3 separate regions of the Homo sapiens genome follow, and regions 2 and 3 are each reported to be linked to region 1. Evidence: microRNA targets listed by miRTarBase, many of them from high-throughput screens and not tested one by one. Region 1 holds a microRNA gene; each other region holds the end of a gene's coding sequence.
What was found. Region 1 holds the annotated microRNA hsa-miR-5572 (GUUGGGGUGCAGGGGUCUGCU, at 2,043-2,063, opposite strand). A microRNA usually pairs through its seed, bases 2 to 8, with sites in the 3' UTR of a target mRNA and lowers its output. Matches are read on the target gene's strand: a 7mer-m8 pairs with bases 2 to 8, a 7mer-A1 pairs with bases 2 to 7 and ends in A, and an 8mer does both.

Region 2: the mRNA of PDLIM5 is a reported target of hsa-miR-5572. Seed matches in the 3' UTR shown: 7mer-m8 at 2,788-2,794.
Region 3: the mRNA of TNRC18 is a reported target of hsa-miR-5572. Seed matches in the 3' UTR shown: 7mer-m8 at 2,547-2,553 and 7mer-m8 at 2,334-2,340.

The regions. Positions count from the first base shown.
Region 1 is chr15:80,579,991-80,583,241 of GRCh38, reverse strand. MIR5572 (microRNA 5572) reads right to left here and starts at 2,139; the gene lies at 2,003-2,139. ARNT2 (aryl hydrocarbon receptor nuclear translocator 2) reads right to left here. Exons shown (of 19, transcript NM_014862.4): 16 at 2,693-2,831; 17 at 1,838-2,003. It overlaps ARNT2-AS1 (ARNT2 antisense RNA 1), which reads left to right. Exons shown (of 2, transcript XR_007064732.1): 2 at 481-3,212.
Region 2 is chr4:94,663,563-94,666,813 of GRCh38, forward strand. It overlaps PDLIM5 (PDZ and LIM domain 5), which reads left to right. Exons shown (of 13, transcript NM_006457.5): 13 at 416-3,251. The coding sequence ends at 505. Among named protein-coding and RNA genes, the nearest start is that of BMPR1B-DT, 92 kb to the right of the region's middle.
Region 3 is chr7:5,305,104-5,308,354 of GRCh38, forward strand. It overlaps TNRC18 (trinucleotide repeat containing 18), which reads right to left. Exons shown (of 30, transcript NM_001080495.3): 30 at 1,708-3,209. The coding sequence ends at 3,003. SLC29A4 (solute carrier family 29 member 4) reads left to right here. Exons shown (of 11, transcript NM_153247.4): 11 at 1-1,809. Among named protein-coding and RNA genes, the nearest start is that of SLC29A4, 24 kb to the left of the region's middle.

The DNA of each region.
Region 1 (3,251 bases):
TCTTGACCCCATCAGACATAACGACTGTCCTGGCCTGCAGCCACAAGGGCCCCCACGCAGACCATGGCTGCCGCACCTGCAGACTGTCCTGCCTGCCTCCCTTTACCTCTGTCTGTCTCCCCTGACCCAGTCTCTGGACTGTGTCCTTCTCTGGGTGGGGACCAGGTCTCCTGTCTTCCAGGGCTGATTCGGGGCCTGGCACTGAAGGTTTTTTTGAGTAGATCGGTGCCAGATGGTCCCTGGGCTTCCGGGAAGGACTAGGTACCCAGGAGGCCTTGAGTCTATGAGGCCCACCTTCAGGAGGAGGTGAAGGGGTCTCTCCACACCCGGGTGGGGAACCAGATGTGGAGAAGGATCTCACGTGTGACTGCAGGAAGGTGGATGCTATCCTGAGAAACAGGATTCTGGGCTCAAGGTGGTAACCGTGCTGAGTGCCTGGCTGACTTGAGAGCAACTGCTATGGGGTTTCTCCTTCCTCAGACAGGGTGCTGTGCTTCTAAACTGGGTTCCAGTGAACCACGTGGCGAGAATACTTAACAGACGAAGAGGAGACACACTGCAAGTAAATGGGACTAAGGCTGGAGGGACAAGCATGGCCTCAGGAAATGCTGTGCCCCAAGACCTCGGGCTGAGTGGGACGGACGTGCTGCTGTTAGTGGAGGAGGTGGGGAGGGCTGGGCAGCAGATGACAACTCCCCATTGTGTGCTAGGGGCTCTGCACAGCATTTTTCTTTCTTTTGTTTTTTCAGACAGGGTCTCACTGTGTCACCCAGGCTGGAGTGCAGTGGTGTGATCATGGCTCACTGCAGCCTCAACCTCCTGGGATCAAATGATCCTCCCACCTTAGCCTCCTGAGTAGCTGGAATTACAGGCATGCACCACAACACCTGGCTAATTTTTTTTTTTTTTTTTTGTAGAGACAGGGTTTTGCAATGTTGCCCAGGCTAGTCTTGAACTCCTGGGCTCCGGTGATCTGCCACCTTGACCTTTCAAAGTGCTGGGATTACAGATGTGAGTCACCGCGCCCTGCCTGCACAGAATTGTTCATAAGGCTGACAGACAAGCAGTTCTAATGGAAGCTTTTAACTTGCCACGTGGAAATTCAGATGTTTGGGCTCAGATTCACGCTCATCTGAGGAATCAATTCTGTAGAGAAAAGCTCTATGAGCCGCACTGCTGGGTGTCACCCAGTGACCTCACTGTGAGAAAGCAGGCACCAGCTTGGACTTCTTACCAGGACCACGGGTCTCTTATGAGCTTGTCCTGACGTGGAGTGGAACCCTAGCCCTGGGAGACATGCTGAGGAGGTTCCTTACACACACGGAGAGTGGGCAAGGCCCAGGATCCTGAGAAATGCACAGGACACAGCGGTTCCTTAACCCTCTATGGCCTGAGGTTTTGTTAACAAAGTAAGATAGGTGTTTTTAATATTTAAAAGAGACAGAAAACTTTGCAGTGTTATTTATGCAATTGATTGTCTCTATAGCTATTCTCTAGTTTCTTGAAACAAGACTATAAGGTTTTTGACTTGGGGGACCTGAAAATCCTTGCCAGGGCCATAATGGGTTAAAATGGTATTCAGATCACCTCACAGCACAGCAACATCATCCCAATGCCTTGAAAATGATAAAGTCAAATCACAAAGCCAAGGCCTAAGCATCCAGTCTCTTAGGAACACCATAGGCCTCCTCATAGCCAGAGAGAGAGGAGGTGCTTGGAAACCTCCAGACCTTGTTTTGGTAGCTGGGAGCTTGGAGCTCAGCCTCCTGAATTCAGGCTGTTCAGAAAGCATTTGTGCTGGCTTTCCCAGAATCTCACTCCCTCATTCCCCACCTACCGAACCCTGGAGTCCTGTTGGCAAGACTGGAGTAGGCATTCCCACTTGGCGAGGAGGTAGCTGGGCTGGAGAGGGGGCTGTAGGAAGAGGGGTCTGCCGGGTAGGTGTGGCTCGTTCCAATCCCAAAGGGAGATGACTGAGTCTTGCTGGACTGAGATGGGATTTGCTACAATCAGGACAAAGCAAAGAGATGGAAAGCATCACCAGCAGACCCCTGCACCCCAACCGATGCCCCAGGCTGGTCGCAGGGGCAGTGCCTGCTCTGGGTTGACAGTGACTCCCCATGACCCTCTTGTCTGGCTAGGCACAGGCCTGGGATCAGCCCGGTGTGTGAGGGCCCAGGAACTGCAGGATCTTTGGGGCACGTCTGGTTGAAGTTACTCCCCAGGGCTACGAGGATCCGGGCCCTCTGGAGTCTGGTTACCAAGGCCTTGGCATTATGAACACCTAGAACTCCCTCAGCCCAATCAACACCCACCCTCACAGTGACTATGAGGGTCTGGGGATGTCACAAGGGTTGGTGGTTTCATGCCCTCCTGGCGCAGGGGCAGCCAGAGGTCCAGAGTAGTGAGGGGCTCATTCTTGATGAGGTGTCTCAACCTGCCCAACCTTTCCCTGCCAGCTGCCTCAGGGCATGGCTGTAAGGAGAAAAGGCTGCTGAAGTTGCAGGCTGGGCACCTGGCTCTCCGAGAGCCCTGAGGGTGGATGGTGCTCCTGAGTAGCCAGCTGCTGTTAGGGTGGTTGGTTCCAGCTAGGAGCCGACCCATCCTCAGAACCGCAATCCAAAGAAAACACTTCCCAGAGTGCTCTGCCTCTCTGGTCACCCAGGGGAGATGCCCTCACAGATGCCCATACCTGTCCCGGAAAGGGCGGACGACTCCCTGTCCATGCCACCTGACTCTGGTTTAGCTGCCGGGAGATTTGGGACATGTTCTGGCCCGTGGAAGAAGAGGACTGAATATCATTCACTCCAGGCACATGAACCACTGAAGAGCTAGAAAAGAGGAAAATGCATTTATCCCGAGGACACACCTGGTTTGCATGAGTCTACGTGCCCAGCCAACCACACAATCTGCCCTGGGCCATCTTCCTGGCTCTCTCTCCATGCAGCACGTCACTAGAGAAAATGACTCACACATCGTGAGCCTCAAAGCCCCTTGGCCGTCCTCCTCTCCCTTCAGGGCTTCCTCTACACTGCTGAGTAGTCCTGCCATGTCTAGTAGTCTGGTACTTCCTCTCCTCGTTCTCCCCAGGGTCTCCCACGCACTCTTCAGCCCCTATCCTATGCCTGTACATCCTCTGCTCTCAGCAGATGATTTGGTTCCCAGAAAGAGAGAAGCTTCTTAGAATAAAAATCAGTCCCACTGTTCACTCACTCTTTTGTGCTCTGGTTAATTTGTTCCTTTGGGGCACC
Region 2 (3,251 bases), not on the chromosome of region 1:
CAAGCTAATGTTGGGCTTGGGAAGGTTTGGTAAAGCAAATGAGTCTCTACAACACAAAGCAAAATTAGGACGTTGTTTATAATTTGGGGAGATAAAATATATTTAACGAGCCCCCTTTCTATATTGATTTTCAAGTTAGGGATAAATCTTCCCTCTGGATAAAGAAAAGTGATGATCAGTGCTTTCTATAAATTAGAATACATTCTAGGAAAAAGCAATTTTTCATTGCTTTTGAAAGATTATATCTAATGTTATAGTAATCGTCAAATATTAGGGAGTCTAACTTAACCAACTAAAGTGTTTTGTCATATTATCCATTGGGGGGAAAAATCACTCTCTCCTTCTCCAGCATACTGGGTAAAATCCTCTTAATATCCTCTTAAATAATATCTCTTAAATGCTGCTTCTTTTTCAGGTGTGTTGTGAAAGTTTGGAAGGTCAGACCTTTTTCTCCAAGAAGGACAAGCCCCTGTGTAAGAAACATGCTCATTCTGTGAATTTTTGAAAGTCAACAGTTCAGGAGAAGAGAAGGAATTTGAAGAGAAAAAGGAAAATTAAAATTACTAATTAATTTTTAGATTCAATATTTATATGGAGTTTTGAAAAATAATAGTGGCCCTGAAGGAATAAATTCCAGCTTTAAAAACCAAGTCTGAGGAAATATTTGGCTTCATAAAGTAAAGAGACGGTTTGGCATTTATTATTACTTTTTCCTGTATTTTATGCCCATAAAATAAGCTTTATAAAAACCAATTTCCTGATGGACTATTAAATTCATCTTAGAATAAATTAGTGAAGAATTTAATTTTAGAATAAATAATCCAATCTGAAATAATTATACCTTCTTTCCTTGTTAGGTAGTTATGAGTAAATCTGCAAAAGGCAATGAAAATGCCTTAAATTTTATCAATAACAGAATTATTGTATTTAAAAAAAAACTAATACTTATCTTTAAAATAGTAAATAGGATTTTAAACAGAGAATTTTATCAGTAATAGGTGTCAGTTTTTAAAAAATTGCTTGTAGGCTGAGCGCGGTGGCTCACGCCTGTAATCCCAGCACTTTGGGAGGCCAAGGTGGGTGGACCACATGAGGTCAGGAGTTTGAGATCAGCCTGGCCAACATGGTGAAACCCCATCTCTACTAAAAATACAAAAATTAGCCGGACGCAGTGGCACGCGCCTGTAATCCCAGCTACTCAAGAGGCTGAGGCACGAGAATCACTTGAACCCGGGAGGGAGAGGTTGCAGTGAGCCAAGATCGTACCACTGCACTCCAGCCTGGGTGACAGAGTGAGACTCTGTCTCCAAAAAAAAACTTTGCTTGTATATTATTTTTGCCTTACAGTGGATCATTCTAGTAGGAAAGGACAATAAGATTTTTTATCAAAATGTGTCATGCCAGTAAGAGATGTTATATTCTTTTCTCATTTCTTCCCCACCCAAAAATAAGCTACCATATAGCTTATAAGTCTCAAATTTTTGCCTTTTACTAAAATGTGATTGTTTCTATTCATTGTGTATGCTTCATCACCTATATTAGGCAAATTCCATTTTTTTCCCTTGTGCTAAGGTAAAGATTTAATTAAATAATTTTGGCCTCTCATAGTTTTCTCTCTCTTTAAAGAGAATAAATAGAGGGCCAGGTGTGGTGGCTCACGCCTGTGATCCCAGCACTTTGGGAGGCCAAGACGGGCGGATCATGAGGTCAAGAGATCAAGATCATCCTGGCCAACATGGTGAAACCCTGTCTCTACTAAAAATACAAAAATGAGCTGGGCATGGTGGGGCGTGCCTGTAGTCCCATGTACTTGGGAGGCTGAGGCAGGAAAATTCTTGAACCCAGGAGACGGAAGTTGCAGTGAGCTGAGATCACACCACTGCACTCCAGCCTGGTGACAGAGCAAGACTCCGGCTCTTAAAAAAAAAAAAAAAAAAAAAAAAAGAGAGAGAGAGAATAAATAGAAAAGAATGTGGCTGGGAATTGTGAATCAGAAGATTATACCCCCCAATTGTTTTTCAATCCCCTTTTCTCAAATAATAAATTAGTTAAATCAGTTTCTGAGTTATGCCACTGGCTGATGAAGAGTTGAGAGGTCTCTTTGCAGAATGATCTTTTTGTTTCGTTTTGTTTCTTCTTCTGCATTTAAAAATTAAAAGATTGGTTTGAGGATGTGATGAAATTGAGACTTTTTGTGGTTTTCTCTCAATAATAAGTGAACCAATTTCAAATGTGATCACAAAGTTTGGAAAGCTTTTATTCACAGAGGTTGGGTAGTGTTGGGAGGGGAGTTTAATTACTCAGATTGGCCTGTTATTTGATTTCCTCCTTTGGGAAAAGAATTATGTAGATACCACATGGAGACAGGGAAACAATTGTGGTAAAACTGTGGATCCTGTTGCTATTTGCCCAGTGAGAAAACAGATTCTGGTATTTGATTTGGTTTTTCTCTTTGTTTCCAGAATGGATGAAAGTCCATGAACCTCCTAAGTTATAATTTAAATTTGTTTGGGGCAAGGTGATTTTATAGTCGAGACAGAGCCCTAGGTCCTTCCTGCCCCATCACTCACTTACGACATCACTTCCATTGTGTGCATGTTTGTTATAGAGGAGGTTTTAGGCTACAATATTTGTTTAACCTCCCTAAGAACTTTCAAGGCATCTGTCCTGAAAGCTGTTAATTTATGGTCTAGCAGATTTATATTATATGCAGATAATAATTAACTGGGGATAAAAGAATGGCAAGGGGTGACACAAAGTAGCAAACTGAATACTTCTCCAATAGCAACCCCAAGCTACCTCCTCACCCTGCATCTTGGAGGGAGGCAGGAAATTTCTTTTGAAATAAAGTGCTGGAGCTGAATTCTGCATTATTTATCGTTGCTGCTGAAACCACCTATAAAAGACTTGCTGGCTAATGTGCATTGTCATATAATGTACACTGTCACATCTTTACAGTCTTGTATGTTATAGAATACAAAATAAGTTGATGGTTTTGTTTGGTGTGAGCTTTTTGTTTGTTTGTTTAGTTTTGCCTTCATAGGTTATATGCCAAGATAGTATTTGATAAGTCAATGACATTTGGATGTTTTCTTCAAAGAATTTTATTTGACCCAGATTTCTTATAAAGTTATCTTACATTAAGGATGTCATTTTCATCAGACCTTCTTTCTACATATTATTCATGAAGCATAATGTTGCATTTCTCCAAATTTTATGCCTGAAAGGGTAGTGTTGCTTCCTAAGGTATC
Region 3 (3,251 bases), not on the chromosome of region 1:
CTGCGCCTGGCCTGTTCTGTCCTTAGCTTCCCCAAGGAATGGGGCTGGTCCAGGTTTTGATGTGGGTCCCGTAAAGGAGGGCACGAGGGCCACCTATGCTCTGGCAGGCATCCTCCCTGGGGCCCAGGTGGGCGGCCACTTGGGCCAAGACTGCGCCAGGTGACACCAGAGTGTTTCCCAGAGCCCATGCCGGGCCCTTCCCTTGCCCGAGGCCGGCTGGCTGCCCTCCATGGGTTACCCTCTTTGCAAAGCCCCGAATGTCCTCTGCAGGCCACCCACACTAACCAGGTCAGTCACTGGGCAGCCAGACCCCCACCTATAGCTTCCCTAGGCCCCAGTGCAGAGATGCCGTCCACCCCCATCTAGGTGAGGGCTTGGGGCCACTCTTAGCATTAGTATCATTTTCTTCTAGTATCATTTTGTGGTAGGCATGGCTGGAAATGTGCAGCTTTGCTTTTTTTTTTTTTTTTTTTGGAGGAGTTTCGCTTTTGTTGCCCAGGCTGGAGTGCAATGGCTCGATTTCAGCTCACTGCAACCTCTGCCTGCCGGGTTCAAGCGATTCTCCTGCCTCAGCCTCCCGAGTAGCTGGGATTACAGGCATGTGCCACCATGCCCGGCTAATTTTGTGCTTTTAGTAGAGACGAGGTTTCTCCATGTTGGTCAGGCTGGTCTTGAACTCCCGACCTCAGGTGATCCACCTGCCTCAGCCTCCCAAAGTGCTGGGATTACAGGCATGAGCCACCATGCCTGGCACTGGTTTTTTGAGATGGAATCTCGTTATGTCACCCCAGCTGGAGGGCAGTGGCACGATCTCAGCTCACTGTAACCTTTGCCGTGGGTTCAAGCGATTCTCCTGCCTCAGCCTCCCAAGTAGCTGGGATTACAGGCACGCTCCACCACACCCGGCTAATTTTTTTGTATTTTTAGTAGAGATGGGGTTTCACCATATTGGCCAGGCTGGTCTTGAACTCCTGACCTCAAGTGATCCGCCTCCCTTGGCCTCCCAAAGTGCTGGGATTACAGGCGTGAGCCACCGTGCCCATCCAACTTAACTTTTAATTTTTTCTCATGTAAATTTGTTCAATTTCTTTTTTTTTTTTTTTTTTTTTTTTTGAGACAATCTCTGTCACCCCCAGGCCAGAGTGCAGTGGTGCGATCTCAACTCACTGCAACCTCCACCCGCCGGGTCCCTGTGATTTTCCCACCTCAGCCTCCCGAGTAGCTGGGATTACAGGTGTGGGCCACCACACCCGGCTAATTTTTGTATTTTTAGTAGAGACGGGGTTTCACCACATTGCTCAGGCTGGTCTGAAACTCCTGGCCTGAAGTGATCCTCCCGCCTCGGCCTCCTAAAGTGCTGGGATTACAGGCACGCTCTACCACACCTGGCTAATTTTTTTTTGTATTTTTAGTAGAGATGGGGTTTCACCATATTGGCCAGGCTGGTCTCGAACTCCTGACTTCAAGTGATCCGCCTGCCTTGGCCTCCCAAAGTGCTGGCATTACAGGCGTGAGCCACTGTGCCCAGCCGATGAGCTCATTTAGATGGCTGCATGGGGTCACCGCCCCTGCACGCGTGGCACCCAACTTCTTCCAGTCGAATCCTGCTTCTTGGTGCCCTGATATGGCAGAATGCCCCCAGACACCACCCCTACTCCAGCCCCTGAAATAAACCACTCCAGACAATTTTATTTTTCCAATTAAATCTTTTCTTTTTTTTTATGAAAAAAGATCACACAGAATTTGCCAACAAACAAAATTCCAAAAGAAACATAAAAAAAAAAACCAATAATTCCCCCAAAAAACAAACCCAAAGTCTGGCTTTTCCTTCCCTCAAGATTGTCTGGTTGAGGCCTTGGTTTCCCTTGAAGGCTTGGGGCCTGGTTAAGTGCTTTCTGGGGCCCAAGCAGGGACCCTGGGCTTGGGCCGGCTCCTGCCTCTCCCTCTTCTCTCCCTAACAAACACTTCTCTATCCTGGGGGGTGAGTACAGTACACTTGGTGGGGTGGGCGGGGGGTGTGCTGGGGACTGGGAGGCCGGTGAAGCCGGTGCTAGACACTATAATCTAACAGGAAATAAAAAATAATATTCTGCACGTCAGAATGTTTTTTTTTATAATTTCATAGCTATTTTTCACAGTTTTAAAAAGTTTATATATATATTTATATATATTTATCTTTATATATATAATTAAAAAGTTGACTCCATTTAAAGGCTTATGATACAGGGGCGGGGCGAGTCTCTTGGTACAATAAAACTGTACAGGTTAAGAAGTGCCACCTCCCTCCTGGGTGGGGAGGGGCCAGGCGTGGCCGGGCGACAGTTTCAGCACCATTGGGGTTTTCTGTAGTGTGAGGGTTTGGACCAGGGTGGGCCTGTGCCGGGCCCTCTCCACCTGGTGCCTTTGACAGACACTCCGGGCTGCAACCCCACCCGGCTCTGTTCCCCAAGTCTAGGCCATCCTGAGAGGGTGGGGGCAGGGCCCCTGGCACAGTCAGGTAGGCCAGCTGGCATCGGGCTGCCCTGTCCCATGCACGGTGGGAGGCCTTGGGGTGGGCTCCATGCTAAGGGTGCTTGGGAAGCCCAGAGTGAGCGTCAGTTTGGTTCCTTAGAAGCGCCCCTCCCCACCGAATCCCCAGTCTGCATGGACCTGGGGGCACCCGGGCCCCCACGCAGCAGCAGCCTGGAGGGCCGGCCTGGCCAAGTGCTTGCAACGTGCTGGGCAGGAAGGGCCGGTCCGGCCATACCCTGATAGCTAAGAGGGGCCCCTGTCCTGGGGGCACTGAGGGGTTGGAAGGTGGGGCTGGAGGCATGTGCACATGCGTGCACACACGTGCATGCACACACACTCACCCGGGCATCCACGTGCACACCTGGCCCCATGCACACGCCTGCAGGAGCGCTCGCATGCACACAACGCACGTGGTCTCCGCGCCATGGCAGTGATGGAGATGGGTCCCTGGCCGCCCTCGGGGCACAGGTGGCCCGCAGGGCCCGGCGGGCTCAGCAGAGCACGGGCACGCCGTCCGTGGAGAAGATCATGCCCGTGGTGGGCTCGTAGGTGCCCGCGAGGTAGTACAGGCCCTCGCTGTCCTGGTACTTCTTGGTCTTCAGCATCTGCTCATACTGCTCCAGGCCCACCACCAGGCACTTGTGCGACACCGTCTGCACGTCATTTTCGTCCACATGCGAGGACTGGTATAGCGCGCGCTGCGGGCACGCGGGGATATCAGGATGGCAGGTGGGGGGCAC